Regions from separate parts of the Homo sapiens genome. Here all the other regions are linked to region 1. Evidence: fine-mapped expression QTL. A gene starts in region 1. Each other region holds a variant in brackets. All regions are shown on one strand. Distances are between the middles of the regions. Region 1 holds the start of SKAP2 (src kinase associated phosphoprotein 2). Region 2 has its middle 49 kb from the start of SKAP2. Region 3 overlaps SKAP2 (src kinase associated phosphoprotein 2). Region 4 has its middle 59 kb from the start of SKAP2.

The links. PIP is the estimated chance that this variant, and not a neighbour inherited with it, causes the effect.
Region 2: its variant is fine-mapped to the expression of SKAP2 in whole blood (INTERVAL, PIP above 0.99).
Region 3: its variant is fine-mapped to the expression of SKAP2 in sun-exposed skin (GTEx, PIP 0.93).
Region 4: its variant is fine-mapped to the expression of SKAP2 in whole blood (INTERVAL, PIP above 0.99).

The regions. Positions count from the first base shown.
Region 1 is chr7:26,863,494-26,866,185 of GRCh38, forward strand. It overlaps SKAP2 (src kinase associated phosphoprotein 2), which reads right to left and starts at 1,097. Exons shown (of 13, transcript NM_003930.5): 1 at 870-1,097. The coding sequence starts at 936. RefSeq lists an enhancer at 1,335-1,664.
Region 2 is chr7:26,912,705-26,915,396 of GRCh38, forward strand. No RefSeq gene overlaps it. Among named protein-coding and RNA genes, the nearest start is that of SKAP2, 49 kb to the left of the region's middle. The variant C/G (reference allele first, on the strand shown) is at 1,241.
Region 3 is chr7:26,723,340-26,726,031 of GRCh38, forward strand. SKAP2 (src kinase associated phosphoprotein 2) reads right to left here. Exons shown (of 13, transcript NM_003930.5): 8 at 2,584-2,647; 9 at 2,089-2,226. Among named protein-coding and RNA genes, the nearest start is that of LINC02860, 87 kb to the left of the region's middle. The variant A/G (reference allele first, on the strand shown) is at 1,463.
Region 4 is chr7:26,922,337-26,925,028 of GRCh38, forward strand. It overlaps the pseudogene RPL7AP38. Among named protein-coding and RNA genes, the nearest start is that of SKAP2, 59 kb to the left of the region's middle. The variant T/C (reference allele first, on the strand shown) is at 1,559.

The DNA of each region.
Region 1 (2,692 bases):
AACATATATTTTCTACCTTGTACAGAAATATAAATTATTGGTTCTTAGTGAACATACACACCTCCGTATCCAGTAAATTAATGAACTAGTAGTGGATTCATAATGCTACTGAAGAACCACGTTTTTAGCTCCTAAAATAAGTTCCTATAAATGGTAATGTAAAACTGAAAAAGGGAAGATAAGGGTACAAAGATGAAGTACTTTCATCGTGTCACACAGGAAGTAGAACTTTAACATATCCTTCCTTTTTTGCTTTAATATATTACTGAGGCTGGGGACAAGTGGCCATTTGAGAACCAGACCTTCTTCAAAAGTCTTAAACGTGAGTGAGCTGAATGTTTAAGAAAAACGGGAGTTTTAGAAATGACAAACTCTTTCACCCCATAACCCCTAACACCTGTGGCTCTGACAGCTCTTTGCATCTCTACATCCTCTACCTCCATTGGCCAGACCACCCAAGAACTACTTATTTGACTTCTGCTCCCTTCTGCTTGCTCACGCAGCATTCATTATCATTATCATTCTCTCTCCCTCTTCCACTCTTCCTCCCCCGCCCTTCTGTCACACACACACACACACACACACACACACCGTCTTCACAATGCACATAGAAACGTCCTGATCCCATTTGTGTAGATCACCAAAAAGGGCTTCGCCACCATCCCCGCACCAAATTTCAACACACACGTCCACTCCCTTTCTGAGACAAAACAACCCCTCTCCTCTCCTCCCTGTGCCGACCCCACTGGCTAGAAGACGTGGGAAGCGCGGGGAGGGAGGATAAGGGCTCTGAATGCTTCTGTCCCCACCGGCTCACCGTTCCCTCGCCCCCGCCCCGACAGCATTATCGCCGCCTTCCCGCTCTTTACCTGCCAACAGGTTCCTAATTTCCTCAGGGAGGGGGTAGGGAGAGGAGGTGCTGCTGGGGTTGGGCATGTTAGGGAGCGCAGGGCGTGCGGGGAAAGGACCTGCGCTGAAAAGGTGACCGACGGGGTGGGGCTGCGGCTGCGACCTAGACTCAGGCTAGCGGCCCGGATTAAGAACAGCGGGGCTACGAGTCGGGACACTGCCGGGCCGGGGCTCACAACAAGGAAGTCACTGAATCTCCAGCGAGCTGCAGCTGGACTGTCGGCCCAGCCCCGCCCAGAGGGCCGGGGCGGGGAGATGGGTGGGAAGGGACACGAAGGGCCTGAGGGGTCCAACTGCGCATGTGTATTCCTCGGTTTTCCCGGCCCCAGAAGAAAGAGCCTGTGGGCAAGCCACGCCCACCGCTACGCCGGGAAGCAGGAGGAGGAGCCACTGGTGGGAAGGGGGCGGACTGAGGCTGCGTCACCTGATGCTGCGTCACCTGATCCAGCGTCCGGAGCGCCTTACAGCCATTTTCGGTACTGGTGCCATCACAACTGCTGATCGTTTCTGCAGGATTCCAGAAAATAATGTATCCATGATACAGAGTGTATACAAGTTTTGCGATTACGCCTTCTGCGTAACAGTCAGTCCCACCGCAGTTTAACCCACAAGGAATTTTCTCTTGTCCTAAACTATTATGGCCTTCTTTGTCCGATTGAACGGAGGTAACGAAGTCTCGTCTTCCGCCAGTCGTCCGGGCGAAGCCAGTCTGGAGCCGCTCCGGAGCGCGCGTTGTGATTGGCTCTTACATTACTTTTCTACCTAATTCGTATCCTTGGGGTGACAGATTTTCCCCACTACAAGGAAGACTGGGAAGTTCTAAGCACCGTCCTTTGGCAGGAAAAAACAAACAAAACAAAACAAAAAAACAGAAGGCCGAATAGACATTGGCACCACTGTCCATCTACAAGCATCAAAAATAAAATTGCTGGTGGTGGTTAGTAGAATAAAATTATAAAATCTGCTCACTCCAACTTGACCATTTAGTCAACAAATACTTACTGTCTTCTATCTGTAAAGCTTCTTAAAAGTTTTCTCTTTTAAAAAAAATGGCTTCTTTAAAACCTTTAACAGGCATACATCTTTGTGCTTCCCAGATATTGCATTTTTTAACAAATTGAAGGTTTGTGGCAACCCTGCATCAAGCAAATCTGTGGGCGCCATTTTTCCAAAAGCATGTGCTCAGTTCATGTCTCTGTCACATTTTGGTGATTCTAACAATATTTCAAACTTTTTCATTATTATTGTATATGTTATGGTGATCTTTGAAGTTACTATTATAATTACTTTGGGACATCACAAACAGCACCCATATAAGACAGCGACTGTAATCCATAAATGTGTGTGTTCTGACTGCTCTACCAACCCTATACCTTCCTCCATATCTCTCCCTCTCTTGGGCCTCCCCATTCCTTGAGACACAACAATATTGACATTAAGCCAATTAATAACCCTACGATGGCCTCTGAGTGTTCCAGTAAAAGAATCATTTTACTTTAAATCAAAAGCTTACTTTAAATCAAAAGCTAGAAATGATTAAGCTTAGTGAGGAAGGCATATTGAAAGCCGAGACAGACCAAAAGCTAGGGCTCTTGCACCAAACAGCCAGGTAGTGAATGCAAGGGAAAAGTCCTTGAAGGAAAGTAAAAATGCTACTCCAGTGAACACACGAATGATAAGAAAGCGAAGGAGGCTTATTGCTGGTAAAGAAACGTTTTCATGTTCTGGATAGAAGATCAAACCAGACATAACATTCCCTTAAGCCAACGCCTAATCGAGTGCA
Region 2 (2,692 bases), 49 kb after region 1:
CCTGGAATGCTAGAAAGACTCTTTTACTTTGGGCACAATCAGTGGAAAAGCAACTTAGAAACTTACAAGGAAAGAGTTGCAGTGGTGCTTCTTCCTCCATAATCTCCCTGCCAAAAGATTAGAGTAACTAAATTCTTTTCAGTAGTGTAGCCTTCAATACATATGACAACACTCATGAGTGTGTTGATCTAATATATACTAAGATATTATTTCTAAAAACGTATGATTCAAATTTTCTTTATATTATGACAAATAATTATAATATTAGGTCACATATTATGGGTCTGGCCAGAGGCATGGAATCATGCTACTGTTGCTTCTACTACCACTAGTTCTCTACTCTATAGAGATATTTTTATGCTTTGTATGTCATTCTGTCACATGAAGTGTGTTGTAATGAGTATATTTATGAGTCTAGCCATTGGGAGTGGAAACTGATGTATTATGTAGCCTTGCACCTCATGTGCAGCTGAATTATAATGTAGATCTTAACAGCCAAGAAGTCTGTAATCAGAGAAAAAAAGAATTTCAAAACATAAACTATGTTCTTGGCACTAGCCTTGAATACTGGACATTCATAACCCACAAGTGCCCAGACTATAAATTTGCAAGTTGCATTAATACGGCAGTAAAAGTCACTCTTCTGAAAGCTGCACTTGTAAAATATTTATAAATTCACATGGTTGTTCCTGGCAAATATCTACATCTGTCAGCTCTGTCTTTTTGCTCCCAAAGCAGCAGAGTTGGTGTCCTGTGTAATTCACAATATGTTCATAAAAAATTATTTTGAAAAATCAAGATAGAAGATATTTTATTCTAAGGGGCAATATATCTGCTCCTCCAATGGTATGGTGTTACTATTTGATCTCCTGAGATCCTTTCTCATCAAGTCTTTTTCTCTGAACAAGATTCCAAATTAGCAAGGCAAGTCCTGTGGAGTTGTCTTTAAAATCTCACATTAATATGTACAACACAGGCCAGGCACGGTGGCTCACACCTGTAATACCAGCACTTTGGGAGGCTGAGGCAGGCAGATCACCTGAAGTCAAGAGTTCGAGATCAGCCTGGTCAACATGCTGAAACCCAGACTCTACTAAAAATTCAAAAAATCACCAAGGGTGGTGGTGGGCACCTGTAACCCCAGCTACTTGAGAGACTGAAGTGGGGGAATCACTTGAACTCGGGAGGCGGAGGTTGCAGTAAGCGGAGATGGCGCTACCGCAGTCCAGCCTGGGCAACA[C/G]AGTGAGACTCAGCCTCAAAAAAAAAAAAAGAAAAAAGTACAACACAGTGGAGTTTTTCCTTCCCAAGTCAATATGTATATCAATGTCACATGGTAAAGGAATTTTCTATGTACATAATCTCCCTATAGTATTTAGGAGATGCTTCATATAGGAGACCTTCTAGATAGACCTGTCTAGATAATTTTTTTTTTCTTAAGCCAGGAAAAAAAATTAAAAGACATCAGATTACATTTTCATATAGATGTATACCATACCGATGTAGTCCATTATTTCTAGTGGGGAGAAAGCCCCCCAAAATCATACCTACTAACAGACTGAGTACTTGACAATAAAATATGCTGTTGTATTTGTATTTGTTTAATTTTTACTGCCATCTAGCTTTTCCTTCCCTCTCTCCCCATGAAAAAGGATTTAGGGGCCGGGCACGGTGGCTCACGCCTGTAATCCCAGCACTTTGGGAGGCCAAGGCAGGTGGAGCACAAGGTCAGGAGATCGACACCATCCTGGCTAACACAGTGAAAGCCTGTCTCTACTAAAAATACAAAAAATTAGCCAGGAGTGGTGGCGGGTGCCTGTAGTCCCAGCTACTAGGGAGGCTGAGGCAGGAGAATGGCATGAACCTGGGAGGCCAAGCTTGCAGTAAGCTGAGATCATGCCACTGCACTCCAGCCTGGGCGACAGAGCAAGACTCTGTCTCAAAAAAAGAAAAAAAAGAAAAAAAAAGAAAAAGGATTTAGGTTGTTTATAATGCAAACATAATTGTTATAAAGACAGAACAGTTAAAGGTGAGATCAGAAATATAAAACACCAGATAGTATTATAGTCCTTAAATTTGGGGAGATAATGCATCCCTTTGAGAATCTGATGAAAACTTTGTGCTCTTTCCCCAGAAAATGCAAATAAGTATATACAAACAAACAAAACACATAACACACACTTTTGTATACTAACTCAGGCATTCAGAGACCACCAACACCATTCCACAGACCACCACAGAGGAAGGAGAAAGAAAATGTATATCAGGAAACTAGAATAAAATTATTAGTACCATTAAGCATGAAGTTTAGCTCTAACTTTTAGTCAATACAGAAGGGAGAATTCAAAGGGTTTCACAGATCTCAATGTTTAACAGAGAAATACACATCAGGTTTTCAGGAGACATATTTTGAGAGGAATTTGTCGGGCGGATGAGTCTCGGATTTATTTTATTTTTTATTTTTTTTGAGACAGAGTCTTGCTCTGTCACCCAGGCTGGAGTGCAGTGGCGCGATCTCTGCTCACTGCAACCTCTGCCACTTGGGTTCAAGCGATTCTCCTGCCTCAGCCTCTGGAGTAACTGGGATTACAGGCGCCCGCCACCACACCTGGCTAATTTTTGTATTTTTAGTAGAGATGGGGGTTTCACCATCTTGGCCAGGCTGGTCTTGAACTCCTGACCTTGTGATCTACCT
Region 3 (2,692 bases), 140 kb before region 1:
AACTAGACATTCCACAGCTGCCTACAACGGCTTCCTTCCCGGGGCACAGGTGCAGGCTCCATCAAGCTCGATCACTTTGCAGAGCAACTGGGGATCCCAAGCAGGGGAAAAGAAATTCCAGGGCAGCTTAAATTTCTCCCAGTACCACAGCAAGAAGTAACACTACTTAAAAAGTAACCAGTTACTTCCAACAATTATGTGTGAGGGTGGGTGAGGAGGGGGGCAAGGAAGAATGAAGAATAATATCTCCAGTAAGAAAAAATAAAAGATGTTTCATATTTTTAAAATTTCAAGCTACTCAGACCTTCCTTAGGTCTTTGTTATGAAAATAACTATGAATATCTGGTCTTTATTCCTGATCAATTTTTTTTTTCTTTAGGGGTGGGGAGAGAACAGCCAAGTTGAAAAAATACAGAACTTAACAGTTATTTCAACAATTGTAATGTAACACATTCATTGCAGGGTTTTAAAAGGATGTAATGGCAGTAATATCGTGTTTAAATGTATTCCACTCTTCCATTTTATGAGTATACATTCTCACAAGTTCTTTTAAACATTTTTAAATACTAAAATAATTGTATTAATGATATGGTGTGACCAAAAACAAGCAGCCAGGGAATATTCTTCCCTACTTGAGGATAACTGATGCTACAGCAGATGCCATTTCCTTAGGGTAAACCAGAAAGGAAGGGGTTAATAAACATGTAGCTCCACTAAACAACTGAAATACACAGATCACTATTCCCCATAAAATTATACTTTTATACTAATCTTCTGGGGTAGTAAAATACAATATGTAGATGCATACATAGTTTTTATACCTTAAATTTATAATATTGTTAAAATTATTACTTTTTACTTGGTTAGAAAACCATTACTGTACCACCACATAAGCACTTGCAAGAATTCACCAGATACAATAATAAAACAAAAATGATGGTGATGTTACAATTAATTGTGGGATCAAGCACTATGCTGAAAGCCTTCCATAAATCACTTCACCTACCCCTCCCAATGACATTATTTCCATTTTATAAATGAAGAAATTAACTTATAAAGTCACTAAGCTAGTCAATGGTACAGCCAGAATTTAAATTTTTTTCTTCTAAAGTCCATACTCTTGGTATTATGCTGTATTGTCTTGAAAATGACATTTGTACATTAATTTGGAACATTTTAAGTATTTTTGAAATCAATTTTAAAGGTTTAACATTACATCATTAAATTGTTATATTCAGAGCAAAATGGCCTCTCTACATGAGATGTACTAGTTAAATCTTGCTTATATTGCTTATGATACCTTTTTCTTCTCTAACTACTGATTTTTTAATAGCCAAAAAAGCTCATTTCAGCCTAGAGTATTAGTAATACAATTTCCTAAATGTTTTCATATGTTTCCTAAATTTCAGATGTCTTTTTATTTTAGATTGATCCTCATGGCCGCAAGTCAAGTAGCTAATAG[A/G]TAATTAATTTTATGTTACATAACAGACAGGCATGTAAACACTAAACTAGGTCTGAGCATTTGGAATAAGAAAACTTTTTTATTCCATATTGATGCTAAAATATCAACAGGAAGACTTGAAGCCTCAAAAGGCCTTTGTTTATAGTTCAACAACATTCCTCTGAGACAGTGCAATATACTACAAGCAAGGAGAAATACGAGGCAGAAGTTGGTAACATCTGGGGTGTGCATAGAACTTCTGGTTAATGGAAGTTCCAAGATGTATAAATAAAAAACGATGTGTGAGTTGGTGGAAAAAACTGTAAGGCAAGTCAATTTTTTAATTAAAAAATTATGTAGCATAAACAATGCTAATGAGCCACAAGTCCCAAGAGATTAGTATTGTATCTGCTTCATTTTAATGTTTCATTCACTTTTCGTAAGTTACATCTACTCACTTGAAATATCTCAAGCAGAACCCTTTTTGTAAAATAGAGTTTTGAAGATATTCTTTGTCCTTGTTCTCAATAGGTCACCATTTTCTACTCAAGCTGTCGAGGACAAATCACACACACAAACACACACACACACTCACACACACACACACAGCCCTAAAATCTTTAAATGAATCACCAGAAAGTAAATACCTGGAAGTTCTTCATAAATTTCATCATCTATTGGTTGACTGCTTGTTAGTGGATTGCTTATTGGTAGAGGATGATCAACATCATCATATAATTCTCCTCTCTCATCATAATCCTCAGGAATAATATCAGATTCCATATCTATAAAACACATTTCATGAAGTAAATTTTAAAAGAATGCAGAAGATATTTTTAAAACTATACTTTATAAATAAATGCAGCCCTACAAAGCAACAACAATATTGTTATATGTTATGTCCTTAACTAAAAACATGTTTAAAAATTGTTTTGTAAATATGTGAATTTTAAAGTAAGCCAATTGGTACTTATAGAAAAGATGCTGTTTAAAATCTGAAGTGAGTGGTCTGTATTAATAACAGTCACATTCAAGTTGGTCATTCTCACAGAAGTCAATAAGCTTTTGTATATGAAAACCCAAACTACTCTGTTATTTAGTATTTAAAGACTGTGATAACTTGTTCGATTGATTTATCTTACCTTGCAATACAAATTTCAGCTGCTGTACCCATTCTTCAGCATCTTTGGGAGAAGCTGCTGTAAACTAATATAAAACAAACAGTAAGAACGAAAATCACCATAGTAGGAA
Region 4 (2,692 bases), 59 kb after region 1:
TGAAATTAACCAGTTCACCCAGGCCCTGCACCACCAAACAGCTACTCAGTTGCTTCAGCTGGCCCACAACTACAGACCAAACAAGAGAAAGACAAAGCAAGAGAAGAAGCAGAGGCTGTTGGTCCGGGCTGAGAAGAAAGCTTGCAGCAAAGGGGACATCTCCACTAGGAGACCACTTGTCCTTCAAGCAGGAGTTAACACCGTCACCACCTTGGTGGAGAACAAGAAGGCTCAGCTGGTGGTGACTGTACATGATGTGGATCCCATCAAGCTTGTCTTCCTACCTGCCTTGTGTCATAAAATGGGGGTCTCTTCCCCTGCATTATCAAGAGGAAGGCAAGACTGGGACATATAGTCCACAGGAAGACCTGGATCACTGTCACCTTCACACAGGTGAACTTGGAAGACAAAGAAGCTTTGGCTAAGCTAGTGGAAGCTATCAGGACCAACTACAACAACAGATACGATGAGATCTGCCGTCACTGGGGAGGCAATGTCCTGGGTCCCAAATCTGTGGCTCGCATTGCCAAGCTTGAAAAGGCAAAGGCTAAAGAACTTGCCACCAAACTGGGTTAAATGCACACTGTTGAGATTTCTGTACATAAAAATAATTAAAATAATACAAATTTTAAGAAAAAGAAAAAGGGCAGGAGACCACCCATTGCAGTGGGCTATGCACTGGCTGAAGAATCCTTTTTTTTTTTTTTTTTTTTGAGACGGAGTCTTGCTCTGTCACCCAGGCTGGAGTGCAGTGGCATGATCCCAGCTCACTGCAAACTCTACCCCCCGGGTTCAAGTGATTCTTCTGCCTCAGCTGGGATTACAGTGATTCTTCTGCCTCAGCTGGGATTACAGGCACCTGCCACCATGCCCGGCTAATTTTTATATTTTTAGTAGTGACGGAGTTTCACCATGTTGGTCAGGCTGGTCTCGAACTCCTGGCCTCAAGTGATCTGCCCACTTCAGCCTCCCAAAAGAATCCTTCATCTTTAGTTTGCAGTGAGAAAGAAAGAACCACATAAGACTCTGCAATGGAGATACTGGAGTACAAGATTAGCCAGGGACAACTTTCTAGTTTAATGTGCAGAGTTCTGTGAATCTTTTTGTACTAAGTTTTCAGGAGTCTCCCCACCCTGAATTGGGTGTGCAGCCACTTTTTGATCCACTGGCACATAAGGCAGACACTGTGCCTAGTCTAAACAAGAAATGTTTCTCTCTTCTTCCCTGGTAACAAAACTCCAATTTGTATTCAGGTTTTTGAAAGAGATCCCTTGATTTCAGGAAGGGTAGACCCCTACCTCAACAACAAGGAATGAGCTGAAATTGGTCTAAATCAGTCATAGTAATTTTCTTTTCTTTCCTCAGGGATTGGCCAATAAGTGGGCACATGACTGAATCCTGGCCAAGGAGACAAAGGGAAAGTCCACTAGGGAAGGCTCTCTTGCTAATAAAAAGACAAGACTCCACAAGTAGAATGTCTCTACCAGTCTTCCTTCTTGTCCTGAACATGGACATGGTGACTGGAGCCATGGTAGCTATATTCTGGCCAGGAAAATGA[T/C]GAAGAAGCTGGCCCTGAAATCATTGGATTACTGAACTGACTCAGGCAACTGCCTACCTCCAGACTTCTTGTTATGTTAGAAATACAAAGCTCATTTGTTTAGGCCTGTACAGATGACTTTTCTATTTCTTGCAGTCAAATGCATTCTGATACTGTGCTTTGTCTACTTATTTCTTACCTCTGCCCTCTGACAGATGAGGCCCAACCCATTTTTCTTACTTGGCTTTATTTGAACAAAGATTCTAATAAGCACAAGAAACCACTCTGTTGATAACTCCTCTAATATAAAAGGAAAGAGTCATGTTCTGTAATAAGTATTTTGTATCCAATTGGTTTATAAATTGAAAACACAGTTTAAGCAGAAAGATAAAATCAAATACAGTCTCTTGCCTACTTACTTCTCATCTCTCTCTCTCATTTAGTTCAAAGAGACATAAAGTGACACCACTCCATCATTTTTGACAGAGCCACATGTGTAATGCAAAACATATGCTGAAGTTTTGTAATTACTTGGGTTCCTTGAGCAGAAGAGAAATGAGCTCATTGTATGTTCATGGTCTCTTCTCCTTCTGTGTCACCTGCTACCATACCAGGTTGATGCCCTCTCAGACATCAGTTACTACAAGCAATAATTATCATTATTATTCTAATGCCTTACATATGAATGCCGTTTGGCAATATTTCAGAGTGCTTTTAAGTTAGTTCTCTCCCTGAAGGCTCACAACTCTACCACTTACCTGTCATATCACTCCCATAAAAGATTACTGTAGAGACTCTGAGGGAAGGAATCCGCATTTTAGAGGAGAGATGTCATTTTCCTTCTCCCCTAAGTCTAGATCTGCTGCAGGCACAAATGGCCTCCTACTATCTGTTCAACCCCACTCCTCTCCTAAACTAATCATGACCAGCACCAAGAGGGGTGTGGAGTTAGTCTTGCTGTCTATAGCAAAGTAAAAATTCACAAGCCTGCCTATGGCCCTCTGGTCCTTCATCCTAGTGTAGGTATTTTTCCCACTCTGATCAGACCTCTGCTAGGATTTTCTAAGGTGATATTGGAATCTCTTACTGGAAGAAGAGTTCTATTCGAATCTTGGGCCTGATTCACTGCCAAGCCTTTGCTGATCACTTAGGCCC